Linked DNA regions of Homo sapiens: regions 2, 3 and 4 are each linked to region 1. The links come from fine-mapping of genetic effects on gene expression. A gene starts in region 1. Each other region holds a variant in brackets. All regions are shown on one strand. Distances are from middle to middle.

Region 1 (8,106 bases):
CTGCAGTGAGCTGTGATTGCACCACTGTACTCCAGCCTGGTCAATGGAGTGAGATACTGTCTCAAAAAAAAAAAAAAAAAAAAGTATGTAGCCAAAATACTTGAGGAAAAAGTATTGCTATGGCTTGAATGTCCCTGCCAACATTCATGTTGAAATTTAATTGCCATTGTAATAGGACTAAGAGGTGGGGCCTTTAAGAGGTGATTGGGTCATAAGGGCTCTGCTCTCATGAATGCTGTTATTAAGAGAGTGAGTCAGTTATCTAGAGAATGGGCTTCTGACAAAAGGATAAGTTTGGACCCCATTTGCTTCCCGTCTCTTGTGCTTGCTTGCTATGTGATGCTTTCCACCATGGAACCACCCTCACCATGTGCTGTTGCTGTGCTCTTGGACTTCCAGCCTCCAGAACTGTGAGAGATTCATTTCTTTTCTTTATTAATTACCTAGTCTGTGGTATTCTCTTATAGCAGCAGAAAACAGGTGAAGACAAATATTACTGAAGTGTTTTAGGAAGTTTATTACTACAAAATATTATGTAGGTGGTAGATAAAACTATTGTGTGATTTTTCTGGATTTGGTAATGTTTGTGGGATTTGTCAACTCTTAGAAATTTGTATTTGAGATTTTTGTCATTCTAAATAAACGTTCATGTTGTACTAAAAAATAAATATTCAATAATCTGGGCTTTTCAGTGACCTTCAGAAATAGGAAGGATTAACTGTATGCATGAATAATACATGATGGAATTTCATCTTCCTTTTCTTCTTTTGACCTGCAGTATATAATGTCTTGCCTACTATATAGTCTCTCCACACCACATACATTAGGGCTCATGGGAAGAGGTGGGGGAGGAATATGTTATTGGATAAATATACACTAGCCCATGCCTAGGTGGTCTGCGTGCCTCCTTTCTTTTTTTACCAAGGCGGGTGCTTGTGTATTCTGACACTGAACTTGAGCACTGGGGGCTATGGTAGCAGAAATGGGGATTCTTACTTCATTTTTAATATTTCCAAAAGCCTAACAAAATATTTACACACAAAATACATGCTGGCAAAAATGAAATGTCAATGTTTATTTGATTTGCTTTAGGCTTCATTGACTTAGTAGTGGTAACACTGGCTAATTTATGCTGATCAGAACCTCTAACCATTTTATCTTTGATTATTTATAACTGGACGAATGAATGATTATTTAATAGATGTGATCAGCTTTATAAGTACAATCTTAAAATATTTTGGCTTCAGGGATAAAACCAATTAAAAATTTCCTTTGCGATGGAAATTGGAAACACATTTCTGTGGCTTCACTTATGAAATGCTCCTCTATTGAACATTCACTATAGGCCAGGAGCTTTCCTTAATTTATCATGCTAATAACACTTCTGTATGGCATTATTAACCCAATTTTATAAATGAGGAAACAGAGGCTCAGATTATAGATGTCTATGCCCAAGTCCCTTAACTAGAAATATCAAGTAAATCTATGTCCACCCTGCCTCCTATATGATTACTTTTTTTTGTTTGTTTATGAGTTGGTTAATTTCCCAGGTAAAGGCCAGTAGGCCAGTGGTCAAGCCTCAGGGTAGCAACTACATTTTGTACTGGGTCTTACTTTTGATGCTTTGCCAACAAAACCGTCAAGGAAGGCAGGAGTTGACTGGGAATAGGCACACTGGGACTGTCTCTGTAGGGTATGTACGCAAGGGTAAAGGGAGATCACAAACGAGAAATATGCCTGTATTCGTCCATTTTCACACTGCTGATAAAGACACACCGGAGACTGGGCAGTTTACAAATGAAAGAGGTTTATTGGACTTGCAGTTCCACATGGTTGGGAGGCCTCACAATCATGGCGTAAAGCAAGGAGGAGCATGTCACATCTTAAGCGGATGGCAGTAGGCCAAGAGAGAGCTTGTGCAACAAGCGCTCCCATTTTTAAAATCTTCAGATCTCGTGAGACTCATTCACTATGACGAGAACAGCCCAGGAAAGACCCGCCCCCATAATTCAATCACCTCCCACAAGGTTCCTCCCACACACCTGGGAACTGCGGGACTTACAATTCAAGATGAGATTTGGGTGGGGATACAGCCAAACCATATCAATGCCCAAGTGACTGGGGTGCTTCCAAACCTACACAGCTGCTCACACTGCTGCTCTGGCAGGGGGAGCATGAGCTGCGGACGTTTTTCTGAAGTTGGAGTGAATTTGTATAAAGGCATACACTCCCTCATGCTGGCTCCTCTGGTGGGTGTCCAAGGCTTCCTTTGATAGATGCAGATGGGGCAGCCAAGGCAAAGTAGGTGACTTATGTGGCCTTGGTGCATCTCAGCTATGCTCACCGGGCAGCCCATGCTGACATGGTGGGCGAGATCGTGGGGCCACCAGGGAACCTGACTCCACTCCCATCTCTAAGCTTGGCCAAGTCAGTCACTTCTCGTTATTGGGGCGTCTTCTACCTGTCACTTGAAAAAGACTGTTCTTTGGAACAATAAGGCGGTAACACATACACAGGACCACCCTGTAGCCGGCCACACAGGTTCCGCCTCCAGGTGCTTGGATCTACTTAACGGACCTCCCAGGGGGAAAGATTTGCGGTCTCTCCGTCCCTCTACCAGGGGAGGGCGCCGTTCCAGCCCTTGCCTCTGCGGCACAGATCAAAGGACGGAGGAAAAAAGGTGCGGGTCCGGGGCACTAATGTTCGAAAATGCAGTTTTAAGTGACCTCTCCCCGCGCACGCACTGTCGGTGGGGGCAGTCCCGAGGCCAGGCTGCGGGGCGCCTGGGGGGACTCGCCTCAGGGGGAAATGGCCCTTTCAGGGCTCGACGGGTCCCCGGGACTAAACGCTCCGGCCGCGGATCGGTGCCGGGGGAGCCCGGTCAGAGAGGCCGGGACCCCGAGGGACGCCTAGGTGCGTGTCCCGAAGCCCGCGTACCTCCAGCCCCGGCGAGACGGCGCCCAACTCGCGGCTCCAGTCACACGGCCCTTCCTGAGAGGAAACACCAGGGAAAGCACCTCTCACTTTTCTCAGGGTGGGAAAACTGTGAAGGAAGAAGACAAAGCAACAGGCAGGTTTTCGCTCGCGGGCTGGAGGCTGGGCCCAGGGCGGGCGCGCGGCTGCGGGAGGCAGCGGACGGTCCGGGCCGCTCGAGGGCTGCACTGCGAGGGTCTGGATCGCCTCCAGCCTCCCCCGGAGGCCCCGCCCCTGCCCTGGAGACCCCGCCCCCGCCTCGGAGGCCCAGCCACCTCCCCCCTCCCCGAGGCGTCGGCCCCGCCTCTCCGCCCTCCGCCCTCCGCCCCCGGGGCCCGCCACCGCCGGCCCGCCTGCGCCGCCTTCGCTTTGACGTTACTGGGGGCCGGGCGGGCGGCTGCCGCGGGCTCGCAGCCTCGCCAGCCTCCGCCAGGGTGCGCGCGGGCCGCCGCCTCTCGGCAGTCCCGGGAGCTCAACAAAGAGCACGCGGCGCTGGCCGCCGGCACTCGCGCCCTGAGGCTGCGGCCCCGGAGCGCCCGGCGGCGGTTTCGGCGCGCGGCCGGGCTGGCGATGGAAGATGGAAGGAAGGAGCGCAGCGGTGAGCTCCGGGGCCGGGGCGCGGGCGCGGGGTGCGCACGCGGCGCCGCTGTTCGACGTGGGGTTTGTGTTGCTTTGTCGCCGCTCTGTCCCCCAGGATCCCGGGGCCACCTGGGTTTGTGCTGTCTGGATAGGTGCAGGGTGCGATTTTTCTCTTCGCGCTTGCTTGCTTTGTGTTTTTTAGGAGCCCAGCAGGGTCAACTTTGTGGTGTTAAGGTTTAGGGGTTTTAGTTCATACCTCGGCTTTGAAAACCTCAGACTTTGGAGAAAAGCTATCAAAAGAAGGCAACATGAAAGAGGACCTCGTATGCCGATCTTTCTTTGCCCGGTCAGCTTGTATTTAGGGACTATCACGTTTCTGTCAGAAAGAAAGAAAAAAAGACTAAACTAAACAAACTTGAATTGAGCGAGCAAACGGACAAGGGAAGATTATTCGGTGCAATTCCCAGGAGCTTTTACAGATGTTTAAGTCATTCTGTTTTACATGCATTTAACTTTATCCGCCGTTTTCAGCTTTCCGTTCTGGCGAATGATGTTCTGAATTTTTTTTTTAAACACATTAACACCGATTAGAGGACGTGGGTTTAGAATGTTGTTGGTGACCTAAATAATAAATGTTTCGTTTTGCCATTCCCCTCGATGTCAAAGGATGTTAAACGCCCACTAGGCAGAGGATGGAATGGGCACCACGATTTCATTTTCTAGACACTGGTTCTCCCGATAGCGGGATCCAGGATTTCCGCTCCAGAATAACTCTTGAGTGGGTCCAGGTGTTGGTGTAGGGAAGACGGAGATCTGGAAAATTACTGTAAGTGGGATTCTGGCAACAAATGCCTCAATGCGTTCGTTGTAATTGAGTATGTGCAAAGGATTTTGCAAAGCCCGGTAGCTAGGTAAGTAGGATAGGATTTCTGCTTTCAAGAAGCGTGCTTGAGAGCTTGCCTGGGAGAGACTTATGCGTAGGCTACCATGGAGGATCTCAGAGGAAGCTTCTGGCCTCCGGGCTTGGAAGTTCTCAGAGAGGAGCTGGCAGTTATGCTGGACCTTGAAAGGGAGGGGTTGATTGGATTTTTGTGAGATGTGAGGGAAAGGATGTCCCCTGCTAAAGGAAAGGGAATTCACTTTCTACCCTTTTCCAAGAAATGATCCTTTCTTTTCTGAGAGTATTTACAAACCAAGAGGTTTTCTTTTCAAAAAGTCATGAAATTCCTCTTCAGCAGTTAAAAGTGCAACATGCTCAACATCACCAGTTAAGCAAATGCAAAATAAATTAGCACCTTTTCAACCAGTTTTTAGTGGCTGGCTGGATGTCCTTCCACAACCTTTTTATATCCATCCACAAGTGATTTGTCTTGTAAGATATTTCATTAATAGAAGCTTTTTGTACTAAAAGGAGTAGAGTGGTATCAAGAAAGGGACTTGGATCTGTAGGTAGGACACCTAGCTTAGAGGCTTTGCCACTGACTGGGTGAGTTTTTGCCACCGTCTTGGGCAAATTATTTAACTTCTGTCGCTACAGTTTCCTGGTAGGGTGAGGGGATTAGGTAGATGCTCTTTCAGAGCCTTCTAGCCCTACCATTTGATATTTCCATGCCTAGACACGTTTTATGCATTACTTATTCAGTGATGTACTCTTAATTTCACATTCTAAATATCTGTTTGTGTGTTCTGTGAATGGATCAGCACTCTTATCCTGACCATTGAATGTGGGAGAGTGATTAGAGCTACAAAGCTAAAATAACCTTATTACGGCCAAATTCCGTGGTTGAATGTTGTTGTTGTTTTTTTTTTTTTAAATGCGAGCATAAGAAGCTTGATTTGCCAATCTTAATGTGTGTTTTCTTTAAAGAAAGTTTTGTTGACACTGTTCATTTGTGACCAAAGAATAACATATACCTTATTATGTACATTGCACTTAAGCAATTCAATTCTGCTTTTAATCAGATACTAGTAATTTAAAAAATTGAGTAACCTTGGAAATTCTTACAGGCTAGTAAATCTTGGGAATTTGGAAATAAAAAAATAAAGTAAGATGGAAGTAGCTCATTGAAAAAGAAAAATTTAAAGGTACTTTCAGTCAATGGCTCTGCCCTCTTTCTAAAACCTTGATATTTACATATTTGTTTGCCAGCCCTGATGGAAAATTATTTGAGTGGAATTTAGCGTGGCATTACATTGAAAAAACATGTCCATGGTACTACTACTTTTGGAGGTGATTTTTTTTCTTTTATAGAAATTCAGGTGTGATTTGTCATGCATTATTCATAAACTAAGACACCAGTGTGGTGATAGGTTAATTGCAGTCTTGGTTAAGAGATGCTGAGGCAAAACCATGTGAATATTAAAATGTGTATCTGCTTTGGCTTAAAGACTGGTTTGTTTGAGGTTTACATGGGGTAATGTCATTTGGACATTATGAAAAGAGTGTCTTTGGGTTTGGGTTGGATTGGGAGGTGAGTTATGGATAGTGATCGTTTCCAATTTTTGGAAAGGAATTCAGACATGATTGAAGTTGGGTCAGACTGTAAAAAATAATCTGGTGACCAAAGTCTGTGGAGTTTAGTATGTGAATCAGGCTTATAGGAGGCTGGGGATCTAGTGTGACCTTGAATTACTGCTGTTGTGATTCTCACCATTTAGGGGTTCTTCCCGGACCGTCTGGGCCAAGCACAGAGGTCCTTGGCTTCCCTTTGCTAAGAGTGGAAGTGTTTTCACTTTGAATATTGCCTCTCAGTTCTTCCTAGTTCTTTTACAGTTAAACCAGCCTGGCTTTCATTTAGGAGAGTACAGGATCCATGTGAAATTCTCCAGAGCATTTGTTCGGAGTGCCCATATCTTGACAGCTTGTGTTGTTTGTGATATTGTATGCAGACTCAGGGATTTGCTGGAAAGAATTTAAGTGGTGGCATTATTTTTTCAAAGAGTGTTTCTGAGTTACGTTGACCATCTTTCAAGGACATTTTTCACAAGCTCCAAATTAAGTAGTGTTGTAGTGGCTGTTGCAATTTACAATGGAGAAAAAGGATAATTTGCAGCATATAGTTAACAAGTTATTCTTAAATCCAAATTACCAAATGTCCATGCCTCATTTGAAAATAAGGCATAACTCAACATTAATAATGAATCTTTGCGTGTGCTATCTTATTTATATAAAAACAGTGCATGTCCCTGCAGTGCTTGTTTGCTCTACCAAAAGAAAGGTTTTTCACTGCGCCCAGAAGGTCAACAAACTTGGGCCCAGTTGGTGCCTAGTGGGGAGGGACTTTGTTGACACATCAGGGCACAGAGGTGGCAGAGCATTTTCTCTCTTGGTGACACCGGTGGTGTGAGGGATCCGCCCGCTCTTCTCCCCTTCCTGCATGTCAGGCTGCGGCCATGGCAGACCACTCACTCCTTGAGGCTTACTTGAGGACCACTCACTCCTGAGCCATCTGGTTTGAAATTCCCTTTCCTCTGAGTGTACATCAGTGAGATGAATCAGAATAATTTATACATGTTGAAGGATATTTTTAAAAGATTATTATTGGAGTTAGGGATTTAGGATAACTGGGAAAATTAACATTTTGACCTAAGCTGGTGTTCTTTTCTTACATGGTATTTTCACACGGGTCTTCTGAGAAAGCAGCATTTTCTAAGTTTCTTGTTAAGTCCTGATTTTTCTGTTGTTGTTGTTGACACAAGATCTCACTCTGTCACCCAGGCTGGAGTGCAATGGTGCGATCTCAGCTCACTGCAACCCCTGCCTCTCAGACTCAAGCAATTCTCCTGTCTCAGCCTCCCGAGTGGCTGGGACCACAGGTACACGCCACTGCGCCCAGCTTAATTTTTGTATTTTTAGTATAGACGGGGTTTCATCGTGTTGCCCAGGCTGGTCTCAAACTCCTGAGCTCAGGTGATCTGCCTTCCTTGGCCTCCCAAAGTGCTGGAATTACAGGCATGAGCCACCAGGCCCGGCCAAGTCCTAACTTTTGGAAAACGCTTATTTCGAGTGATATTTTCCTGGCATGGGGCGTTTTTACAATCACAGCTAATGTTTATTGAGTTCTTACTTGGGTTGTCTCCCTTATTCCCCATGACAACCCATGAGGTCAGTAGTGTCATTATTTCCATTCTGAAGTCAGGAGAGGTTAAGGAACCTGCTCAAGATCCCACAGTGAGTAAGTGGCAGAGCTGAGACTTTAAACTCAGGTCATCCAATTTTCTTAACCACCATTCTGTTTTTATGTCTCAAAGTTAGCATTGCGTGTTGCAGAAACTGAGCTCTTTGGCTCTAATATTTAGATTATTCGAGTCTTGGAATCTGAATATTGGATGACTAATTCATCACCGACCATTATACATTTGTTGGCTTAATAGTGGGACCAGATTTGTTGTTTGGCTCAAGAGATAGAAATGGTGTAATTAAACAACAACAACAAAACCCCTGGGGTGTCTAAAAGGATCTCTGTAGGACCACATGTAAGGAGTTCCACGTAGTTATGTGTCATTAATTGGAATTCACAATAAAGCAGATTAACAAATTAAAATGGAATGTAT
Region 2 (8,106 bases), 510 kb after region 1:
TTTGCAGAGGAAGATGCAAAGTTCAGAGAAATGACTCCATGCAGTCCTCTCAATCACTCCATGTAGTAGGTGCTATTATCATAAGTTCCTGTTGTGCAGATCTTCATGGCAGTAATTGTTTTTCCAATGAGGCGACCATTGCTCAAAACTATGATGTCCCATCCTCTCCTTCTGAGGATGGATAACCAAACTCAGCGATCTTCTTTTCAATAGAAACTTGAAGTGCTGAGATTGTTTTTCTTGGGTAGGCTAAAATAGAGCCACAAAAGGTCTTTCTTTTCCACCTCCATCCTCAGTTTCCAAAAAGATTGTTCTGGAGAGTGAGACTTAGCTGGTTGTTTAATTTATTTTCTTCATTGTCTTTTGTTTTTTGAGACAGGCTCTTGATCTGTCACCCAGGCTGGAGTGCAGTGGTGCAATCACAGCCCACAGTGCCTTGACCTCCCAGGCTCAGGAAATCTTCCCACCTCAGTCTTCAGAGTAGCTGGGACTACAGGGGTCCCAGCACCACTGCACTCAGCTAATTAAATCTTTTTTTGAGAAAAAAATTTTGAGGGGTCTCACTGCATTGCCCAGACTGGTCTCAATCTCCTGGACTCAAGTGATCCTCCGACCTTGGCCTCCCAAAGTGCTGGGATTACAGGTGTGAGCCACTGCACCTGGCAGGGTGTTTAATTTCTGTATGTCCACGGGCAAGCATCTGCTTTCTCTTTACTTGGTAATTACTTCTTGTCTAGAAGTAGAGGAGCTGTATCTAGCCCCCATCTGATGTTCTATTCGGCTGTTCTACTTTAAATTTCCTTCCCCTCTTTTCTTGACCGGCCTTTGTTCTTTTCACCAATCAAAGCTGAGCCCTTTATTGCCTAGAAAACCCCATCAACCACCCCTGCCCCTGGACTACAGCAACTTACAATTGGCATGAAACAATTTCGTTGGCAATGACCTTCTGTCCTAAATACTCTTTGCTTCCTGGGTGTTAGTCTTTTTGTACAGCCTACAACACAGTTATAAACTCTTTGAGGGCTGGCGCGACTCACTCAACCATTTACCTATCAGATCCCGGACGAGGTGATCAATATTTTGTTACTGATTATTTCAGTTGTGTTCTCAATCATATACATTAACGTTTTTCGTGGTTTTAATGCTTGCACCTTGTGGTGTGGTCATTTTTGTGTGTGCTGCTGCTGACTTTTTTCCCCAAGTAAAATCTTTTTCTTTGGGTATTGGGGAAAGTGGTGCAACATTTGGAGGAAGGGCCTCTACAAAAGTAGTTAGATGTTATCTGTATTTTCCTTTTTATTCTTGGCACGATCCTAATCCCCCCACATTTTTTTCTGGACATCTCCTTCCACGCTGATGGTGAGAATTCCTTAAGGCAGAACTTAATAGCTGCGTTGCCGATCTTCGGCTGTCAAGGTGTGGGTTCCTGGGAATAGCACATTCACTCCTATGGAGTCAGTTCTCAAATTTGTCAAAAATTCATGGCTATACTGAAAATTTAAACACTCTTCCCTGGCTCTCTAGAACGTTAATCAAAGATGCTAATATTTAACTAATGTGCTAGGTGCAGGGTTGTTCAACATCAGGATAAGGTGGTTGTGAGCAGTGAGTTTGCCAACATTCAGGAAAGGAGGAGAAAGAAAGGCAAAGTCTAGATCATTCCCAAGTTCAGCATCAGCCCTTGAACAACTGAGAGTTAACTGCCTTCGCTCTGTGTTTTCCCCTTAGTTTCAGTAGTTTTTGTCATTTTTCAAAGGCATGACCCCCTGGTTGCGCCCACAGTGATTGAGAGCACGTCTATCTCCCTTACAAGAAAGAGGTCATGGTGCCAGGGCCTCGTGTCACCCCCAGCTTCCACTCCCCCACTTCCAGGCTGGTTTCATTTCTCTTCTCTTTGCCCTTTGGCTTTTCTTTTCTTCAGAAATTTCAATTTTCCTTGCACCGAACGTATTAAAATTTAACAGTCACAGAATCTCGGTGTGTGACACGTGATGGCTTTCCCGATAACTTCATTTTCCTCTGTCATTGAAGAGGCCATTTTCAAAGTCACCCTGGACCGTGAACAGTTCTCACTTAATGCTTATTTGATTGTGTTTGTACACTGAAATTTTTGTCCTTTTGTCTCCTTGAGTCTGCTTTCTTTGGCCTACTACTAATAATATTATAATATGGGAAATAATAGTAATATAGGACATTTTAAATTCTCTCCTCTAAGAAGAGGCCAATACTGGAGAGTGAATACTTGATAAATCAAACTCCCCCTGTCCCCATCCCATACCACCCCATCTCTCTCAATTCCTCACTAAGTGGCTTCCAAGGATGGAGAATGAAGATGAGGAGGCCACATGTCTGGCTTCTGCCTTGCTGAGTGGGCGGTGGCAGTTGGAGGTGATCTGAGGAACTGTGTGGGAGAGGGGGAAGAAATAATGGGATAGATTTTGGTGGAAGGGTCTTCAGGAAATGAGGAGAGATATTGAAAGAAAAGTTGTGTGAGATTTTGCTATCCGGTGTGTGATTTCCTGATTTCCACCCCACCCCTGCCAAATCTCTTGTTTGTTTATTTATATGTTTTTGAGATGGAGTCTTGCTCTGTAGCCCAGGCTGGAGTGTGGTAGTGCAACGTCGGCTCACTGCATCCTCCGCCTCCCAGGTTCAAGCAATTCTCCTGCCTCAGCCTCCCAAGTAGCTGGGATTACAGGTACCCGCCACCATGCCTGGACAATTTTTGTATTTTTAGTGGAGATGGGGTTTCACCATGTTGGCCAGGCTGGTCTTCAACTCCTGACCTCAGGTGAACTGCTCACCTTGGCCTCCCAAAGTGCTGGGATTGCAGGTGTGAGCCACCATACTCAACCAAATCTCTTGTTTAGTTTCAGGATTAACGTGTGGCAGAGTGGGGCACCTATTCTACAAAAATGGTTTAGTGCCAGGTGTGACTTCAAGGTGAGCACAGACCATGAGTGGAAGTGAACTAAGCCCTTCCCCAGCCCCTCTGCTCCAGTTAGTTTAAAACTGCCTCCCTCAACGTGTGACCAGAGAACATAAAGTGCTCTGGGACTCTGGGATGTAGGAGTTAGTCTAAGATGAGAAAACTACCACCATCTCCTCGGGGTCTCATCTACACAGGGAGCCTGTGCACTCTCCGGTCCCCTCAAGCCCAAGTGTGCTGTGAAGTTTGACAGGTGTCATCTCTGGGGTTTCTAAAAGGCTCCCACTAAAGGATGCTTTGTGAAAGTCTGGTTTTCCTTATCAGACACGAATCACCTAAGTCTCTCCTTGTACCCAGATGGCTAAATTTGGTTTATATGATCTCACTGTGACCTTCT[C/G]TTGAACAGCTCTGTGCGTGCTGCCAAAATGAAAATGAACAATGTCAGTGCCATGATGTCCAGTTGAGCTGTGACCTGGATTCTGGTCTCGCATACACAGAAGCAACTGAAAGCTGAGAATGAGGGGCCGCCGATGGCTGGGTGTGTGGGGGCATTGTATTACTTGAGCCCATCCCTTGAAAAGCTTAGGAGTCCTCCACCTCCACTGGGAACTCATCAACTCCTGGCAAGAAGAATGTCCCTGGGCACAGGGGACAGGGATCAGCTGTCCGAGGTGAGAGTCCTCCCTGGTGAGCCCACACCTCCACGTGGGGCACTGCAGGCTGTGAAGAAAGGTGAGCAAGATGACAGTGTCGCTGCTGCTCCAGAAAGTAGGATGCAGGGCCCATCTGGCCTCGGCCCCCACACTTCTCACTCCCTGCTCTGTTGGTGCCAAGGCTTGACTTGCCTGTGAAAGGAAATGAGAAAATCACCTTGGAATTAAAAGACCAACAACAAATAGTCAACCTTGGAAGGGTCGGGCTGAAGACTCTTTTCGAAATACAGATGGAGGATAGAACAGAATGCTTGGGACCAGAAGTGTTTTGGACTTTGGACTTTTAGATTTTGGAGTATTGTCATTGTATTTACTGGCTGAGCATCTCAGATCTGAAAATCTGAAATCCAAAATGTTCCAACGTGCATTTCCTTTGAGCATCATGTCCGCCCTGAAAAAGTTTTGTATTTTGGAACATTTTAGATTTTTGGATTTGGGATGCTCAAACCTGTATTAGGTTGAACCATATAAAACTGCCAGCGTTGGTCATTTTTGACCAGCAAAAATGTCAATTTCATATGGTTCAAACTGACGTGATGGTGATTCCCCTTCTAAGTCTTCCCACTGCATTTGGAATAAAGACCATTTTTTTATTTTTATTTTTTTCTTTTGAGACAAGGTCTTGCTCTGTTCCTGGGCTGGATTGCATTGGTGCTATCATAGCTCACTGCAGCCCTGAACTCCTGAGCTCAAGTGATCATCGTCTCAGTCTCTTGAGTAGCCGGGACTACAAGTGCCTGCCATCAGGCCTGGCTAATTTTTTATTTTTTGTAGAGACAGCATCTTACTACATTGTCCAGTCTGCTCTCGAACTCCTGGGCTCAAGTGATCCTCCTGTCTCAGCCTCCCAAAGTGCTGGGATTACAGGTGTGATTGGCCTAAGACCAAATATTCTTGACTGAGCCCACCGGGCTCCCCCAACTCTCTGTCCAGCTTCACGGCTATACTTTTTGATCCTGCTATTCTCCTAACAACCTCTCCACCTCTTAGTCTTGCTCATTCTGTGCCCTTCCTGAAGGATCCCCTCTCTTCCCCAAGTAACTCATCCTTCAGATATGTGTTTGAATGCCAGTTTCATGGGAAGTCTTTTCTGACTAGGCTTTTCTGCTCCTCAATGTGCTCAGAGCACCTTCACTTTCCCTAGGAGGTGTGATCCCGGCTTGTATTGATGGATCAGTGTCCGTGTTGGATGCTTGCCTCTCCCCCAAGGGGCCCTGCAGCCAGACACCTGGAGGTCCCTCCATGTGATTGGTCATGGAAGCTTTGCCTTGTTGATACTTGTTTGAATGCTCTGTATTGAAGTAATAATTTGCATGACCATACGATAAAGGATTTTGCATTCTCTGTTCAATAGGAACTTTACCAACAGCCCTCAGACCATGAGAGTCAGTGAAAGTAATCAGAGGGCTCTGCCTTTTCTCTGCATCCCCTCCAGCGGTGCCACTACCAGTAGGGCCTTACCCCAGCCTGGCTCCCTGTCTAGACTTCTGGTAGCACCTCACTAGACTGAGTCTTGAAGGCAGAAACTGCTTGCCAATCGCTGCACAGGACATGAGGAAGGGCAGTGGTGAGTGCAATGAAAACAGTAGACATTCAACAAATATTTGTTGTTTGCATGAAACCTCAAGACAAGAGAGATAAAAGCTTTATTACCTTTAGGCTGGAAATCCCTTTACCCTAGGAAAACTTCCCCAGCCCCAAGGAGCCATGCAGCTTCCCCCTGCTTATAGCTCAGCAGTCTCCTGCTCGCTCTTTTCTTCCTGGCTCTCAGGGGCTAGCATAAGGCCAGCGTAAAAGCCCTTGTATAAACTTTCTTTCTTCCCTGGAGAAAACCTTTCAGCTAGCTCTAAGGACCACTGGGGTCCTCCCACTTCATTCTTATTTTCAGCCTGCAGTAAACATTTAGTTCACAACTGATTTGCTGTTCTGGGGTGTTCATGACAGTCACATGAACTCCAGTGAGCAACCTGGCTAGTCCAGCTCTTAGCTAAAAACTCATTCCTCTTTCATCTGCACATTTCTGTACCCCACTCAAGTAAGTCTTTGCCTGTACCAGTTATCTAAAATCGCAAAACCAGTAACTTACCAAAATAAGTTTCACAAGTCTATGGGCTGGTGAGGTGTTTATTGCTGGGCTAGGCATGGCTGCTTTCGGCGGGGCTGGTTCAGCAATCTGCTGTCAGCTGCATGATCGAAGGTGGCCTCAGATGGGCTGTGTCGGCCCTGCTCCTCATGGTCCTTCTCCAGCAGGCTGGCCTGGCCTTGTTCATATGGGGACTGCGGGGCTTCAAGAAGAAGTACAGAAGTTGTAGCCTCTTGAGGTCTGGGCTCAGAACTGCCTGGCTCCCTGTTACTTCTTCACATACCACTGACCTACCCAAGTTGCAGGGCCAGTGCAAATTCAAGAGATGGGCCATAGATGCTACCCCTTGATGGTAGGAGAAAGTTACATTGCAGAGGGTGTGATTCAGGGAAGGATAAAAATTGGGCCCTTTTTTGCCTTCCAGCCTCCACGTGTCCCCATATACAGGGAAACTGCCTTAAAAGCCAAGTCATTACAATGATATTAGCCCAGAATATCGTTATTCTGATAATCAGAATTCGCCTGTTCTAGCTGAGGAAACTCCTGAGCTGCTCATAGGCATTTAGATATAAACAAAGCTGGAGCCAAATTTGGGTGGAGTTAACTGGATTCTGTCCCCAAGACTCCTTGTGGATGTAAGGTCAAAATTTAGGTAACAATGCAGTTTTGCAGGTCTGTCTGGCATTGTACCTGTAGTCCCTGAAGTGAGTATTTCTGAAGAGGAAGGAGAAATAAACCAAAGCAAATCAGAATAAGAAAACTCCAATTTCCCCTTTAGAGTGGTAAAATCTTTTTTTTTTTCTTTTTCAGACGGAGTCTCTGTCATGCAGTGGTGTGATCTCGGCTCACTGCAACCTCCACCTCCCGGATTCAAGCGATTCTCTTGCCTCAGCCTCCCGAGTAGCTGGGATTACAGCCACCTGCCACCATGCCTGGCTGGTTTTTGTATTTTCAGTAGAGACAAGGTTTCACCATTTTTGCCAGGCTGGTCTCGAACTCCTGATCTCAGGCGATCTGCCCTCCTCAGTCTCCCAAAGTGCTGGGATTACAGCCGTGAGCCACCATGCCGGGCCTAGAGTGGTAAAATCTTAATAAGATTTATAGACCAGTTAGCAGCTTTTTGCTGATGTGCTGTATTCTGTACTGTACAGTTAGCATTGCAGGAATCAGGATGGTGAAGGGTACACAGGACCCTCTCTGTATTATTTTTGCAACTTCCTATGAGTCTACAATTATTTCAGGATACTGAGTTAAAAATAACTGGAATATGTACATTGTTAGTTTGTACAATTATAATTAAGCACCTGCCACCGCCTGGCGTTTACAAATTGCTAACTGGCACGGTCACCACTTCTTCAGATCAGCATCTATCAGCTCACTCCCATGTTGTTACTTGGTCTCCCAGGGAAAAAAAACACTAAGAGAGGAGGAAAAGAAACAACAGGCACATTCTCTTTTGTTACGTTATTTCTCATAATAAACCTTTTCACTTTATCTATATCTATCTATCTATCTATCTATATTATATGTATGTATATATATATCTGTATTTAATTCTTTTAAATGAAGTTATAGATTACTGGATTGTTACTTGATAAGTTATGTATGGAAAATATCACCAACTACAATGAACATCATTTGTTTAATCATGTAAATGCTGTAAAAGTTTAAACTTATCTATTTATTTTTACTTGTTTTCCCATTGAATTTCATGATTCGGTTTCTTTTTTCTTCCTTATCTGAATCTGAAACCCAAAACCTTTGAGGTTAGTATTCCAGAATCAGCAGTCAGGGCTAACTATCCTTTGGGCTGACGTATGGCTAAGCGAGGATTGGCTGGGAGACCTGGGAGAGGGCTGGCTCCCCTCTCTGCTCTGCCGCCATAGCTGGTTTCTGTCTGATGCCCAGTTTGAGGACTAGGGGATGCCTGGGTCTTGCATGCATGCTTTTTTGTCTAACCCAGGACTCAGCACTTCATGGGGAATGCCTGCCAGCCTCAATCCTCATCCTTTGAGATAAGGCAGAATTTCCCAAACTAACATTTAGAAGAACCCTCTCTAGGAGGTTAATAGATATTATATAGCGTATCCGGGCATGGTGGCTCACGCCTGTAATCCCAGCACTGTGGGAGGCCGAGGTAGGCACTTGAGGCCAGGAGTTTGAGACCAGCCTGGCCAACATAGTGAAACCCTGTCTCTACTAAAATTACAAAAAATTACCCAGGTGTGGTGGCAGGCACCTGTAATCCTAGCTACTCAGGAGACTGAGGCAGGAGAATCACTTGAACCTGGGAGGCAGAGGTTGCAGTGAGCTGAGACTGTGCCACTGCAATCCAGCCTGGGAGATAGAGTGAGACTCCGTTTCAAAAAAGGAAAAAAAAA
Region 3 (8,106 bases), 100 kb before region 1:
CCAGAATGGCATGGAGCAGGGGTAAGCATTCTCTCAAGGCTGGCTATTTCTTACCCTAGGCTATAACCCAGGTCTTCTCTCCTTCAGATCCTCAAATTTTAAAAAAGATTTCACTGGGCACTCCCAATTTCTTCTGGAGGATGGAGATGGGGGCAGAGCACATGGTCCATACACTACGTCTATTTTTTTTTTTTTTAGACAGAGTCTGCCTCTGTCACCAGGCTGGAGTGCAGTGGCACGATCTGTGCTCAGTGTAACCTCCACCTCCCGGGTTCCAGCAATTCTCCTGCCTCAGCCTCCTGAGTAGCTGGGATTACAGGCGTGCACCACTACGCCCGGCTAATTTTGTATTTTTAGTAGAGACGGGGTTTCTCCATGTCGGTCAGGCTGATATCGAACTCCTGTCCTCAGGTGATCCACCCGCCTCAGCCTCCCAAGGTGCTGGGATTACAGGCGTGAGCCACCATGCCCAGCCACTACTTCTAATTGTATTCTTCCTCTTCCTTGTCTCTCTCTCCTCCAATCTTAGAACTATTTAACAAGTTAGAGGGGTGGGAAGGGCCCTGTTCTACATAGTCACCATCAGTTTGGGCCAGATCGTCACTGAAATAAAACTTAAAGCTTGCTTTATTTCTAGCAACTACTTTTTCTGGGGAAAGTGCTGCTCTGTGTCACATAGTCCAAGTCAGGTTAGAGTAGGAGACAGACAGAACAAGCTGGTTAAAACCAAAAATATAATTTCATGAATTTGTTTCTTACTGCAGGTCCTGTCTTCTCTATTCTGTACATGAATCTTTTCCGTTTTTTTAAATAGCAATCCAGTTTATGTATCAGTACACTGGCAGAATTTTATTTTTGAGAACCTTCCCATCATTCTTGAAATACTCTCTCCTTTAGTTTCTGAGAGGGAAGTTCTAAGGTAAAGATTCTCTAGGAATGAGATAATAATTGCAGGGAGGTAAAATTTGGTTTTGTAAAATCACTTATGCTTTTATAAAAATCTTAACCTGGACAATTATCTGGGATTAGTGCAGAGCTATTTATTTTCTAATTCCTTTCCTCACCAGAATTATTTAATGTCCATGTTTTGAAACTACTTTTAAATTGAAGTATAACATGAATACAGTAAGGCATCAAATCTTACAAAAGTTTCACATAATTCTATGAATTGGGCAATTCTTACAGGTTAATGAATTTTAAACAACTATGCAACTGTATACCCTAGAATTTAATATATATATATACATATGTATGTATATATATGTGTGTGTATATATATGTGTGTGTGTGTATATATATATGTGTGTGTGTATATATATGTGTGTGTATGTATATATATATATATATAGCCAGGCACAGTGGTGTGCACCTATAGTCTCAGCTACTTGGGAGGCTGAGCTGGGAGGATCATTTGAGCCCAGGAGTTCCAGGTCAGCCTGGACAACATAGTGAGACCCAATCTCTTAAAAAAATCTTTTGTTTTCTTTCCAGAATAGTAGAAATAAAACACGTCACAGAAAACATAGTTATGTTGCTTAATCTCTTTAGATGAGCATTTTTTAACTTTTTGGTGTAAGGACCCCTTTACACTCTAAAAACAAAAATTATTGAGAATCCCTAAGAGATTCTGGCTTTGTTTTTATGAGAGCTAGCAAGCTAGCTAGATATATGAGATATGTATGTATATTAGATGTAAATATGTTATAAATTAAGTCTGAGAATGTTGTGAAACATGAGAATACACAAGTACACATTCCATGAGCTGATAAAACAATGATGTCATGGAAAATTCTACTGCACACTTGTGATTAAAAACAGAAATAATGACAAGTGATGCTGTGTAGTTGAAATGCTCATACATTCTTCCTGGGATTTTAAAATGGTAGTGCTGTGGAAAACAGTTTGACATTTGCTCAAAAAGTGAAACTAGAGTTACCATGTGACCCAGCAATCCCACTTCTAGGTACATAGATGAGAGAATTGAAAATATATGTTCACACAGAAACTTGTACACAAATGTTCATAGCAGCATTAGTTCAAAATAGCCAAAAAAAAAAAAAAAAGAAACAATTCAAATGCCTATCAACTTGGGAATAGATAAATAAAATATGGTGTATGTATAAATGAAATACTATCCAGCCATAAATGGAATATTATTCATGTAGGAATGAAGTACTGATTCATGCTGCAACATAGATAAACTTTGAAAACGTTACCTAAGTGGAACAAAAGCAAGACACAAAAGACCAAGTATTGTATGATTCCTTTTATATGAAATATCCAGAATATGCAATCCACGTAGACAGAAAGTAAACTAGAGGCTTCCAGGGGATGGGGGAAGCAGGGAATGGAAAATGACTGCTCGCAGGTATAGAGGTTCTTTTCAGAATGGTGGAAATGTTCTGGAATCATATAGTGGTGATGATTGTACAACATTGCAAATTTACTAAAAACAACTAACCATACTAAAAACCACTTTAAAATGGTGAATTTCATGTTATATGAATTATATCCCAATTAAACATTACCACATAAAAAGGTATCCTCCAGAAATTATTATTTGGAGCTTTAGAGACAACTTTGTGATCCAGAAAAATAAATGGATAAAGGAGCCTGTACAGCTGATTTTTGTTGAGGAGAAATGCGCAGAGGATTCCTGTTGCCAGACTGAGTGGGCCTCCCAGATAAGCAGAGTCGAACTGAGTTCTTGGGTCACTGCGCTCCCCGGGCGACGGCTGACATGCTCCATGTTTGCAATTGCGATTGTTCAAGCTGAATGAACGCGATGTTGTTGTGGCAAAAGAAAACCCACAAGAAAGTATAGATAGGCCAGTCTAAGGGTGCCTGAGTTAGGGCAGAACTTTTCTCATATGTTCTTGTAAAGCTCAGGCACAAAGAAAACTAGCTAATAGAAAGAAGGAAACAGGCCGGGTGCGGTGGCTCACGCCTGTAATCCCAGCACTTTGGGAGGCTGAGGCAGGAGGACTGCTTAAGGCCAAGAGCTTGAGACCAGCCTGGCAACATGGCGAAACCCCCATCTCTACTAAAAATACAAAAATTAGCCAGGCGTGGTGGCCCACGTCTGTAATCCCAGCTACTCGGGAGGCTGAAACAAGAGAATCACTTGAACCCGGGAAGGCGGAGTTTACAGTGAGCCGAGATCACGCCACTGCACTCCAGCCTGGACAACAGAGTGAGACTGCGTCTCAAAAAAAAAAAAAAAAAAAAAAAAAAAAAAAAACAGAAAAGAAGAGAAAAAAAGAAAGAAACAAACAAAACCAAAACAACACTATTACAATAACAAAAAAAAAAGCACGTGGGTCTCATACATCATCAACAAATTATTTATGCATGGAGTGCCTTTTCTCTGGTCATTCATGGAGGTTTAGGATAGATGACCCAATTAAACCAGCCCTCATTTGAATTCACTCCCAAAAGAAGAACGTAATGGTAAGAGAATCAAGTTTAACGGCAAAAAGATGACATTTTCAAAAACATATGAGCCAATTAAAAGCTCATTATCCAGAAACCCATCTGATGGTGTCAGATGGTTTAAGTGTTAGGAGAAAATGTCTGATGAACCTTTCTTGAAGCTGCTCCCAGATCTACTGCTGGAGGAAGAACCCCGATTGAGACAGGGAAGCAGTGGCAAACTCAGGCTGCAGGTGGAAGCTCAAAGGGGAAAATGAGACAGACCTGTCACAGAGTCAAGGAACTTTCAGAAATATGGCTCTCCACACACCAAGCAATGGGATACAGTCATTGGCCATTGAAAGTGGAGCGGTAGCTTCAGGTGTCACCTTCTTTGGGGAACGTGGCATTTTCAAGGGACCCTGAGCATGAGGGAACCTCATCTGGATTTTCAAGTCATGACTCAGATGGTCCCATAGGGGCAGAAGGAATGAGGGTGTCCCAAACAGACTGGCATGTAGAAATTCTATGTGGTATGCAAGATTTGGGAAGTACATTACGGCTTGTGTATCATGTAAGCTGGCTATACTAGAGTGCTGAACTTATACTAGAGCAATAGTACTCAGAAGAAAATAGTAATTTGAAAGACATTTGAATATAATTACTGCATATTGTAAACTATATATAGAGTTACATATTTCACTCACTCTCAGGAGAAAAGAAATGGGATTTTTCTAAGAGACAAGAAATTATACATCCTTTTCATTAGTTTTCTCATGTGCTAGCTTTATGCAAAATGAAATTTAGGTACAAAGGGCAGTAAGCAGTAACAAATATGAAACACCCATCTGGAGTGGTATGTGAATAGTTACTAAGGAAAGGTTTCCAAGAAAGGAACCATAAATGCTTTCACCAAAGCCAGATAATTAGAAGTGTTAAAGAAACAGTGTAGGTTTTTTTTTTAAGTCCTAGTTATGGTAAATTACATCTAATTACATTTTTAATTGCCAATTTCTACCCAGATCCTTGAAATCTTTCAGGAAAATGAATTTAAACCATAATTCTTAGTAGGAAATTTGAGGATAAATAAACTTTTTAATACATTAGATTGTTGCACAGTTTCTCAAAATAAGTTATAATCTTAACATGAACACATATTTACACGCACTACTCTTTTCATAATTCATGGAATTCATTTTCTCTTTACAGTTATACTAAAAAGATTCTACATATCTTCTTTCTGTGTTAGTAGATTTAGAGAAGGTAAATCTAATTACTATAATTGTATATAGACTTGCAAAGACTGGCCCACATCATAGAGAGACAGCATGCATTATCCCAGAATATCTGAGACATATCTGGCAACCATTATAGCACCCACTGAGTTGTCTTCGA[G/A]TTAGGGCATGATTGTGTGAATACGCAAATAAAGCACAGAAGGGAAAAAGTAACCTTTGGGAAAGTGGCTCAGAGCAGCGTAAGTGAGTAGATGAAGGGCCCAGTTCCTTGCCTTGCCTCCCAAGCTGTGGCAGCCCACAGCAAGATTCCAACCCTGTATCTGAAACTCATGGGGTCAAGTGTATTTCAAACTCCCAGGGGTTTTGGACTTCACGAAGATGATTTAAGAGACTCTGCCCTCTTCTTCCTGCAGAGAGGGAAATCCCTTCCTAGGCTGTCGGTGGAAAATCCTCTCCAGCGTCTTCTTTGTCCTCTGTCGCCCCCACAACCCTTCACAATAGAGCATGGGCAAGAGACAGCAGCGCCAAACAGGAGGCCGCTACCTCTATGTGGTGCCCCCAACAGTGTGCCCTGTACGAGGTGGATTTGACGTTTAGTCAAATTAATAGATTCTTGTTAGGAACACACCCAAGAGAAGGAGTGTAATTACTGTGGGATTTGGTGAATCATGGTGAATATGTCAGTAACCAAGTAATTACCCTGGGGAATCTTTTCCTCTATCATCCACCTTTACCTAAATTATATGTTAGCATCTAAGTAGTCCTCCGTAATCTGATGATTTAAAATTGTTTAATTTCCTAGTGTATTTAAATGGGCGAGGTATCCCTGTCTTTTCTCCTTCTCTATTCTCTTTCTCATCCCACTGAACTTTGTGCCCCCAAATCAAGTTAAATGAACTTAAAAGTATGAACAAGGCCGGGCACAGTGGCTCACGCCTGTAAACCCAGCACTTTGGGAGGCCAAGGCGGGTGGATCACCTGAGGTCAGAAGTTCAAGATCAGCCTGGGCAACATGGTGAAACCCTGTCTATACTAAAATGCAAAAATTAGCCGGGCATGGTGGTGCATGCCTGTAATTCCAGCTACTTAGGAGGCTGAGGCAGGAGAATTGCTTGAGCCTGGGAGGCGGAAGTTGCAGTGAGCCGAGATAGCGCCACTACTCTCCTGCCTGCGTGACAGATATAGACTCCATCTCTTAAAAAAAAAGTATGAACAAATTCTGAAAAGCTTTATTTTGGGTACTGAAATAACTAACACCTTGTCTTAAGCATAGTAAACGTAGTCAAAATGAAGTAAGACCATCTTTTTGGCTATGGACCAATTTTTTAGGTAGGACTGGCAGAAATGACAGTTTGGGAACTGAATATGCCATTTTCTTTGTCCCCATACCCATGAAATGAAGGAAAATGATGACTGGTACTTAGTTGGAAGTACTAAGGGTGTATCAGAAAGGATTTACTGGGCGGGTGCAGTGGCTCATGCCTGTAATTCCAACACTTTGGGAGGCCAGGCAGGAAGATCGCTTGAAGGCAGGAGTTTGAGACCAGCCTGCACAACAGAGGGAGATCCTGTCTCTATATTAAAAAAAAAAAAAAAAAAAGAGAGAGGAAAAGAAAAGAAAAAGAAAGGTTTTACTAAGGCTGTGTGGACCAGTGCCATTCTATAGAAATATAATGTGAGTCATATTTATCATTTAAAAGTTTTTAACAGCTACATTTACAAAAGTAAAAAGAAACAAGTAAAATTAATTTTAATAATATATTTTAAACCAATATATCCAAAACATTAAGATCCCAAAATATAATTAATGTAAAAATTAATATTTTACATATTCATTTTTTATACAAAGACTTCGAAATCTAATGTGTATTTTACACTTAGAGATAATCTCAATTTGTACTAGGCCCATTCCATGTGCTCAATAGCTACGTATAGCTATTAGCTACCTTATTGGAAGGTTCATGAAATGTGAATGTTTAGAAAGCAGAGCTGGTGCCCAAATCCTCAGCAATCTGTGATTCTTCTGGAAAAAGAATGGCCTCTACTTTGAAATTTCTTTCATATTTACTCTACTATATATTATAAACTGAAATAAAGACCATCCGTTAGTAAAAATAATTTTATTTTTAGTACTTCCTGTAAATCAGTAAAATACACTAGATTTGTGCTGAGAATTGTACATCATTCCTTAGTTAAATAGGAGTCACAATTTGAATCCAAAATTTGAGGAAACTAAAAACAGACACATAGACCAATAGAACACAATAGAGAACCAAGAAACAAATCCACACACCTACAATGAACTCAGTTTTGACAGATGCCAAGAACATGCACTGGGGAAAAGACAGTCTGTTCAATAAATGATGCTGGGAAAGCTGGATATCCATGTGCAAAAGAATGAAACTAGACCCCTAGGTCTCACCATATACAAAAATCAAATCAAAATGGATTAAAGATGTAAATCTAAGACCTCAAACTATGAAACTACTACAACAAACCATCAGGAAACATCTCCAGGTCATTGGTCTGGACAAAGACTTCTTGAGCAATACTCCACAAGCACAAGGAACCAAGGCAAGTGGGATCACATCAAGTATCCAGCAAAGGATACAGTTAACAAAGTGAAGAGACAACCCACAGAATGGGAGAAAATGTTTGCAAACTACCCATCTGACAAGGAATTAATAACCAGAATACATACAGAGCTCAAACAACGCTATAGGAAAAAATCTAATAATTCAATTTACAAATGGGCAAAAGATAATGAATAGACATTTCTCAAAATTAGAAATACAAATGGCAAACAGGCATATGAAATGGTGCTCAACATCACTGAGATCATCAGAGAAATGCAAATCAAAACTACAGTGAGATATCATCTCATCCCAGTTAAAATGGCTTACTATAAAAGACAGGCAATAAGAAATGCTGACAAGAATGTGGAAAAAAGGGAACCTTGTACACTGTAAGTGGGAATGTAAATTAGTACAGCCACTATGGAGAGCAGTTTGGAGTTTCCTCAAAAAACTAAAAATTGAGCTTCCATATGGTCCAGCAACCCCACTGCTGGGTATATACCCAAAAGAAAGGAAATCGGTATATAGAAGAGATGTCTGCACTCCTATATTTGTTGCAACACTGTTAACAATAGCTAAGATTTGGAAGCAACCTAAGTGACCATCGACAGATGAATGGATAAAGAAAACGTGGTATGTATACACAATGGAGTACTACTCAGCCATGAAAAAGAATAGGATCCAGTCATTTGCAACAACATGGATGGAACTGGAGATCATTATGTTAAGTGAAATAAGTCAGGCACAGAAAGACAAACATTGTATGTTCTCACTTATTTGTGGGATCTAAAAATCAAATCAATTGAACTCATGGACATAGAGAGTAGTGGGATGGTTACCAGAGGCTGGGAAGGGTACTGGAGAGTTGGGCGGGGGAAGGTGGG
Region 4 (8,106 bases), 160 kb before region 1:
CTGGGTTTTGTAGGATCTGTGAGACTATGCCAAGCGGAGAACCGCAGCCAGGGCCATCTCAGCAGACAGAACAGCATGTACCACACCTATCACTACCATTTAAAGGACTGGGATATTCGAAAACCAGTGTTTGGGAAATAGCTTAGGAGTCAATGTGGCTGCAATTTAGGATATAGGCTAGACGCAGAACACCAGATTAATGGTGGGACCAGATTACCTGCAAGGGTAAGGCATTTAGGTTTCATCATTTAGATAATGGCTAGCTCTTGATGATATTTCAACAAGAAAATAATATGATCACATCCATATTTTAGGGAGATTTAAAAATCAGAGTATAGCACCATCTAAGGGCCTCTCCAATTGCATTTGTCAAAATATGCTAGAGTGTACCTCAATAATAAACAAACCGCACACCTCAAAAGCTCAACAGAAGTCTCTTTCTCTCCCTCACACACTCCATGTCCCATGTGGGTCAGTCTTTGCTCCACATGGACCCTTGACAGGCTGTCTTGTAGCTGCACCATCTGGATGGAGTACAGGCCTCAAGTCAGGAAGGGAAGAAAGCTTTTGTCACATGGTCTTACCTAACCACAGAAGAGCTGGGATGGTTGACTAGCGAATGGAATATTTGCTAAGCTATAACCATCTCTGCCACACCAATAGAAAAAGAAATTCAACTATCAAGATAGGGTAGTTTAAGAGATACTGGCAGAGTGGGGGTGGGGTTGGATACAACACTTAGAACTTGTGGAGCTCATCTTGGGCCAAAAAGCCATGGAAAGGCTGGGCGCAGTGGCTCACACCTGTAATCCCAGCACTTTGGGAGACTGAGGCGGGCGGATCACGAGGTCAGGAGATCAAGACCAGCCTGGCTAACGTGGTGAAACCTCATCTCTACTAAAAAAAAAATACGAAAAATTAGCTGCGCGTGGTGGCATGGTCCTGTACTCTCAGCTACTCGGCAGGCTGAGACAGGAGAATCACTTGAAGCCGGGAAGCAGAGGTTGCAGTGAGCCAAGATCGTGCCACATCACTTGAGCCTGGGCGATAGAGCAAGTCTCCATCTCAAAAAAAAAACAAAAGCCATGGAGAAAGTGGTGATGCCTATAAAATATGTCCTTCTGTGTCCCATCCATTGCTTTCAGCGCTGCCCATAGATAATTGTCAGTGGCCCTCTACGTAGGCAGTTGTGGGCAATTAAGAAGTGTTAAGTTTAGCCTAAAGCTGCCTCTTTACATATTTTAAGTTTGGCCTAAAGTGTCTCTGTACATAGTGAATTGTAACCTAACTGGATGTGTAAAGAGCCTGTACCCTCCTCTTGTGCCAGTCACAGTTTCGGCCAGAGGTAGCCAACTGTTCAAACTGTGTTCCAATAAGGCAAATGGCAAGCTGTAGCCAATCCGCCTGTTTCTGTACCTCACTTCCTTTTTCCTTCCATCGCTTTCCTTTTCCTGTCCATGAATTTTCTGGGACCATGTGGCTGTGATGAAGCCTCTCTGAACCTGTTCTTGTTTGGGGGCTGCCCGATTTGTGAATCATTCTTTGCTCAATTAACCTGTGTTAAATTTAATTTGTCTAAGGTTTTTCTTTTAACAGAAGTAACTTGATGGAGATTCTAGGTCTGGTGGGGTCTGGGAGGGCCTGTGGAGATGCAAGGCCACGGCCAGATATGGACTTTTCAGGAATGTGGATCCTGCTGTACGTACTTCCCCTTTTACCTCTCTGGCCTCTCTGTGAGTGAAAATTAACTCAGTGGCCTCTGGTTGAAAGATAAAGACTTCTTGCAGAACATATGGGGAGAGGAGACAAAAAAGAGACAGAGAAAGAATGGCATAAAGAGAGAAGAGAGACACAGAACAAACTACTTTATGCCAGGGTAAAGGCATAAAACATGACAATATGTTAATAGTGGTTGTTTAGAGGCAGTGGGATTATAGATTCCCTCCCCTCCCCGTCCCCTCCCCCTCTCCCCTCCCGTCCCTTCTCCCCCCTCCCCGTCCCCTCCCCATCCCCGTTCCCTCCCCTTCCCCTCCCCCTCCCCTCCCTCTCCTCTCCCCTTCCCCTCCCCCTCCCCTTTCCTCCCCTTCCCTTCCTTTCCCGGAGCAGGAGGCTCCCACGTTGGCCAAGGCTGGAGTGCAATGGCCCAATTACGGGTCACTGCAACCTCTGCCTCCCAGGTTCAAGTGATTCTCCTGCCTCAGCCTCCTGAGTAGTTGGGACTACAAGCAATCTCCATCATGCCCAGATAATTTTTCCTTTTTGTATTTTTGGTAGGGACAGAGTTTCAACATGTAGCCCAGGCTGGTCTCAAACTCCTGACCTCAATTGATCCGCCTGCCTCGGTCTCCCAAAGTGCTGGGATTACAGGTGTGAGCCGCTGTGCCCGGCCTTTTTCTGTTATTTTACTGCCTTTTTTCTGTATTCTCCCATTTTATACTTAAGCAGTAATCATTTTCATTTAAAGGCAAATTGTTTTATTTGAAACAAATCAGAGGTTCCTCTATTTATTCTGACAGTGGCTCTGTAGGGTTGACACCTAGCATTTTGATTATTTTTTGCACTACACAAATGAAGAACAGAAAAGACCAGCAAAATATTCCAATTTCTCAGTGAAACTAACACTAGACTCAATCAAGGATCTGAGGCTAGAGTTTGGACAATTGCCCAGGCAGGCTGGGGAGGCGGGGCTCCAGGGAATGGGGGTGGAACCTGGCCTTGGGAGTGGAGCTTGGTTTTGGGGGTGGAGCCTGGCCTTGGGAGAATGGAACCTGGCCTTGGGAGTGGAGCTTGGTTTTGGGGGTGGAGCCTGGCCTTGGGAGACTGGAGCCTGGCCTAGGAAGTGGAGCTTGGCCTTGGGGGTGGAGCTTGGTTTTGGGGGTGGAGTCTGGCTTTGGGGAAATGGAGCCTGGCCTAGGAAGTGGAGCTTGGCCTTGGGGATGGAGCTTGGTGGCTGGGCATAGGCCACCGTCACTGCCACCAGGATGGAGGCAAATCAGGATGCAGCAGACCCAGGATCAGTGCTGCTCACCCAGACTTACATTTCTTCCTATATGTTCAGGGCTGAGATTTACATCTGACTCCTCAACTCTCTGGAGAATATTCTATTTCATCTGCCCATGACTTAATAATGAAAAGAATTATATTTGATTGTTAAGAATCTCTTACTGATTTAAATACTTTTAAAAAACACTTCGTAAAGACGAAATGGGTGTTAATTTTGTATTTAGTGCTGTGACTCTAGTCAGCAGTGAGCAGCAATATTATCTGAACAGACATAAAGATGAACACTTAAGGGACCAAAAGTTCGGGGCTTGCAAAATAATTTGCAATGACTGCGAATTATCTCCCTGTCTAAAACAACTCAGGATGGTAACTTGTGGTTGTGCAGTGGGCATTCTTTCCCTCTGCATCATTGCAGAGGTTATGCAA[G/T]CGTTCTGATTTTCCAGCTGTTTCTAATCAACTTAAATGCTAATTTAAAAACATGCTCTGAACTGAACTCACACCATCGCCTGACATCATTGTTCCTGCTTTAAGCAGCCCAGGGGAGCAGAATCTTCTTAGTGTCCGTTTACAGTGCATACTTTTGTTCCTCACAGAGAGGGTAACTACTAAATACTGTTGATTAAGCCAGTCTGCTCTCTTCTCTCTTCAGCCCCCTTTTCTTTGTAAGTCTCGTTAGAGAGACTGTGTGCCAAGCCAGGGCATGTAGTCCAGTGTGGTGTTTGACATGGGCCAAATATGATAACTAAGGCTTCAGATGACATCACCAGGTTCTGAATATTAGCCAGAGCCCAGAGATTGTTCAAACTACTTACAAACTGTTCAAACTACCTATAAACTGTTCAAACTACCTGCAGACTTCCTACAAACTGTACTATCTTCTCACTTCTGACCATAAATGTGAACACCCCAAGCAAAATGCTAGCAAAACTTATTCTACAAGATAGTAAAGGACTGTAACAATCAAGTCCCATGTGAGGGAGTATAGAATAAGTGTAACTGGTAAGAGCCCAGCCTCTAAAAACAGGAAAACTCGTGTCCAATTTTAACTCCCACTTACCGCACAATTAACTTCACCTCTCTAAATACTAATTTTTCCATCTGCATAATGGAGAGACTATGTCTCTCATTGGTTTATTGAGTGCCTGGCTCAAAATTGGAGAGGAAACTATAGGAAGAAAAATGGCTCACAGTCAGTGGAGAGCAGAACCAGGATTCAACCTCACCTTCATTGGACTTAGAACCTGAGTTCTTAACCTCTAAGCTGTAATGGAACCATGAGGCAGACATAAAAAACCATAGGTTTGCTTTTCTGCTCAGAAAATAATAATATAAGAAACCAGAAGGAAACCATGAAGGAAAGTATATAGACTTGGCCACATAATTTTTTTTAACTTTTCATATAAAAAGCAGTTTAAATAAGTTTCAGAAGTAAATAACACACCACAATGAGCAAAATATTCACAACATATTGTCAACCTAAATCGCAGAGCCTCTCTAAAAGAGGAGATGTTACTTAAGAATAGAGCTTTGCAATGGGAATAGGCATGTCATAGTGAACTATGTGCATTTTCAGGGAGGTAAAGAAAGACAAAGGTTTCCAAAGAGAAAAATGAGGAGGATTACATAATTGTTTTGAAATCATTATCCTTGGCTACAAAGATCAATAACAAGGGTGACGCCAGTCTGAGTTTGGAGAGGCCAGTTGCTGGGCAGATGTTCTTGCAGGAGTATTTTTTTGTGTGTAAGATTGTGATGGCCTTTGTGCAAGGTTGTGGTTTTTGTAGTCTTTTTTGTTATCACACACTGAAGCATGAGAACCCACTTTCCAGGGCCTCCCCTGGCTCTGTTTCTCAGGATTTTGTTTTCTTTTTCTTTTTTTTTTTTTTTTTTTTTTTTGAGATGGGGTTTTCCTCTTGTTGCCCAGGCTGAAATGCATTGGTGCGGTCTCAGCTCACTGCAACCTCCGCCTCCCAGGTTCAAGTGATTCTCCTGCCTCAGCCTTCAAAGTAGCTAGGATTACAGGTGTGCCCCACTACACCTGGCTAATTTTGTATTTTTAGTAGAGATGGGATTTCGCCATGTTGGCCAGGCTGGTCTCGAACTCCTGACCTCAGGTGATCCACCCGCCTTGGCCTCCCGAAGTGCTGAGATTACAGACGTGCGCCACCATGCCCGGCCTTTCTCAGGATTTTCTTAACATTCGTCACTCCATTTTAATTCCAATAACTTTCACGGTATATCGGTTAATATTTTAATACAAAAGCATCTTTAAAGGTGTTTTAACATATGAATATTCAATGAACAAAGGCAAAATTGAAAATTCAGAAAATAAGAAACACAAATGTGAAGCCAATAAATGTGAGGAAAATATTCAAAGAAAGAAAAACTATCCGGAATCATTAGATCGAGAGAATGACCATGCTGTACAGGTCCTTTCTTGGCCCCCGTTTTCCTCTGACTCCCATGTCTTCCTGAGCTGGGCATGCGAGGCCTGTCAGAACTCAGCCTCTGCTGACCTGCCAGCTTCCGTTCCTCCTCTTCTCCTCCATACCGTGTGGTCCAGCCCGCAGGACATGGTAGGCTCCTCACATTCCCAGATTTCACTTTCCTGGTGTTGTCTATCTGTGAGCCGCTCTGCTGAGGCATGAATTCATATTACAGACGTATGAGGGGTATGAGCTGTGAGTCACCCAGCTAGTGAGTGAGCCTCGCTGGCTTCAAGCCTTCTCAATGGACTGAGCCTTATTGTTTCATATTCATCGTTAGGGCATTCTCATAAAGTAATAAAAGGTGTTTCTTTTTACAAAATGATCATGAAGTGGAAGTTAAGTCAAAGCATGGAAGTGTTAGGAACTTTTGGTTCTCAGCCAGAACAAAGAAATCTTGGGTATCAAATGTGCTACGCTGCAGCAGCCATAGTGGTATTCACGGATAGAATATTCTAGCAGCCCTGCAGACGAATCCCTTTGCACGTTAGGAGTCTACTGCCTTGCTCTTCCCTGCATGTGTGTGCCTTGAGGCTTCAGTGCCTTTGCTCCTGTTTCTCACCCTTTTGCTTCCCTTCCCCACCTCTGAGGCCAAACCCCCAACAGCGCTTCCTCTGCAAATGGCAGAGTGGGTCTTCTCATCTTTGTATTGCCTCCATGCAATGTGTAGCACGGAGGTTAAGGGCATGAACTTGAGAGCCAGGCTACCTAGGTTCAATCCCACCTCGGTTATTTATCAGCTATGTGATCTGGAGCCTGGTTACGTAACCTCTCTGTGTCTCAGTTTCCTCATCTGCTAAACTGTGATAATAATAGCACCTGTCATAGGGATGTTGTAAGCCTTAAATAAATTAATAGCTATAACCTGCTGAGGACAGCGTCTGACATATAGGAAGCAGTGTTGTTATTCTACTACAAACCTTTCCGTGCTTCATTATGTTACCGGAAAAGGTCTCAGTCCAGACCCCAAGAGAGGGTTCTTGGATCTCGTGCAAGAAGGAATTCAGGGCAAGTCCATAGGGTAAAGTGAAAGGAAAGTTTATTAAGAAAGTAAAGGAATAAAAGAATGGCTACTCCATAGACAGAGCAGCCCTGAGGGCTGCTAATTGCCCATTTTTATGGTTATTTCTTGATTATATGCTAAACAAGGGGTGGATTAGCACCTCCCCTTTTCAGACCGTATGGGGTAACTTCCTGACATTTCCATGGCATTTGTAAACTGTCGTGGTGCTGATGGTAGTGTAGCAGTGAGGACAACCAGAGGTCACTCTTATTACCATCTTGGTTTTGGCGGGTTTTGGCCAGCCTCTTTACTGCAACCTGTTTTATCAGCAAGGTCTTTATGACCTGTATCTTGTGCCAACCTCCCATCTCATCCTGTGACTTAGAATGCCTTAACCGTCTGGGAATGCAGCCCTGTAGGTCTCAGCCTTATTTTACACAGCCCCTATTCAAGATGGAGTTGCTCTGGTGCACACTCCTCTGATAATTGTTAACAGTTTTTATATACAGCAAGACCTTTTTTTTTTTCTAAGTACTACCATAACTCAGTCATGTAGGAAGAGTGTAGTCCCTTTAACTTGTTTGTAGTTGTTCTGGGCTTCCTCATGAATTGACAACTACCACCTCCATCCCTCTTTCTCTGAGAGATAAAGTAACCAAACTTACTTTGGCTTTGCAAACTGAGTTTGTTCCAATAATTTAAGCATCTCATTGACAACATCCAGTCTTTGGGAAGTTTGTTTACTTGCATGCCCCCAATTCTACCCTCTGGGGTTTACAGAGACAAGGAGGGAGGATGGCCTACCTCTGATGGAGGATCACAGGGTCCTTCGATCCATGCCACACTCTCTCACCCTCTGTTTCCCCAGCTGAGAGAGGATGTTCCTGCATTCTACTGGGGCCTACCACCACTGACTCACACTTAGCTCTTTCTCAACTCAGGAATCATCTTCTTGCTTATTTAGTCCCCCAAGGTGTAGACTCCTCCATGACGCTGTATGTTCTCCATTCTTCCCCCTATTTCAGGTGGTCTACTCCCAGCACTCCTGCAATGATGCTGTCCCTAACTTAGCATCCCTGCTGTATGACTTGGGTGTGGGAAGCCTAGGAGGGCAGATTGGAACCTTCCTCTGCCCGAACTGGCTGCTCTGCCCTTTGCTTTATCCTGGGATACCAAGGTTGTCCCAGGACCCCCTGCCAAACTCCTAAGTCCTCCATCCTCCAATATTTCTCAAGTCCATCACACATACAACCATCTCTGCCAACCGTCTTATTCCCACAATCCCTTGGAAGAGAAAGGGGCTTTCCTCCTCTTCTCCCTGATTGGCTGTACTGTGAAGCTCTGTGGTCTGGACAGCCAAGCCTAGCCCGTTCTTTCCTTCACATCATATCTCAATAGTGCCTGGCTCTCAAGCTGATTTTGTAATGAAAAGTTCTATTTTGAATGTTAGAATTTGACTGCTAATGTTTTCTTGTTTTTGGCATTCATTTCTTTGGCAACAATTTAAATCCCCTCAAGGCAGATGAAGAAAGAAGGTTAAATACAGTAAACTCCCCAATGTACCTACACACAAAATACAAAATATTGGCCCTGTTGTTTGAGTTTATCTCCCAC

Direction of the effects. Positions count from the first base shown, and alleles are read on the strand shown. Sizes are in standard deviations (SD) of each study's normalised expression. Not every link is listed here.
With allele C in place of G in region 2, the expression in cerebellar hemisphere of the gene that starts at base 3,431 in region 1 is lower (moderate effect, 0.43 SD a copy in GTEx).
For the expression in sun-exposed skin of the gene that starts at base 3,431 in region 1, allele G in region 3 goes with a higher level than allele A (small effect, 0.39 SD a copy in GTEx).

The links. PIP is the estimated chance that this variant, and not a neighbour inherited with it, causes the effect.
Region 2: its variant is fine-mapped to the expression of PSD3 in cerebellar hemisphere (GTEx, PIP above 0.99). The same link has a PIP of 0.9 or more in cerebellum.
Region 3: its variant is fine-mapped to the expression of PSD3 in sun-exposed skin (GTEx, PIP above 0.99). The same link has a PIP of 0.9 or more in unexposed skin.
Region 4: its variant is fine-mapped to the expression of PSD3 in fibroblasts (GTEx, PIP above 0.99).

What each region holds. Positions count from the first base shown.
Region 1 is chr8:19,009,028-19,017,133 of GRCh38, reverse strand. It overlaps PSD3 (pleckstrin and Sec7 domain containing 3), which reads left to right and starts at 3,431. Exons shown (of 16, transcript NM_015310.4): 1 at 3,431-3,571. The coding sequence starts at 3,551. LOC124901898 (a long non-coding RNA gene) reads right to left here and starts at 3,131. Exons shown (of 2, transcript XR_007060840.1): 1 at 2,938-3,131. RefSeq lists silencers at 3,288-3,377, 3,448-3,547.
Region 2 is chr8:18,494,230-18,502,335 of GRCh38, reverse strand. No RefSeq gene overlaps it. Among named protein-coding and RNA genes, the nearest start is that of NAT2, 110 kb to the right of the region's middle. The variant C/G (reference allele first, on the strand shown) is at 3,327.
Region 3 is chr8:19,112,999-19,121,104 of GRCh38, reverse strand. The region is part of intron 2 of LOC105379301 (a long non-coding RNA gene); the gene reads right to left. Among named protein-coding and RNA genes, the nearest start is that of PSD3, 100 kb to the right of the region's middle. The variant G/A (reference allele first, on the strand shown) is at 4,807.
Region 4 is chr8:19,166,598-19,174,703 of GRCh38, reverse strand. No RefSeq gene overlaps it. Among named protein-coding and RNA genes, the nearest start is that of SH2D4A, 140 kb to the left of the region's middle. The variant G/T (reference allele first, on the strand shown) is at 3,430.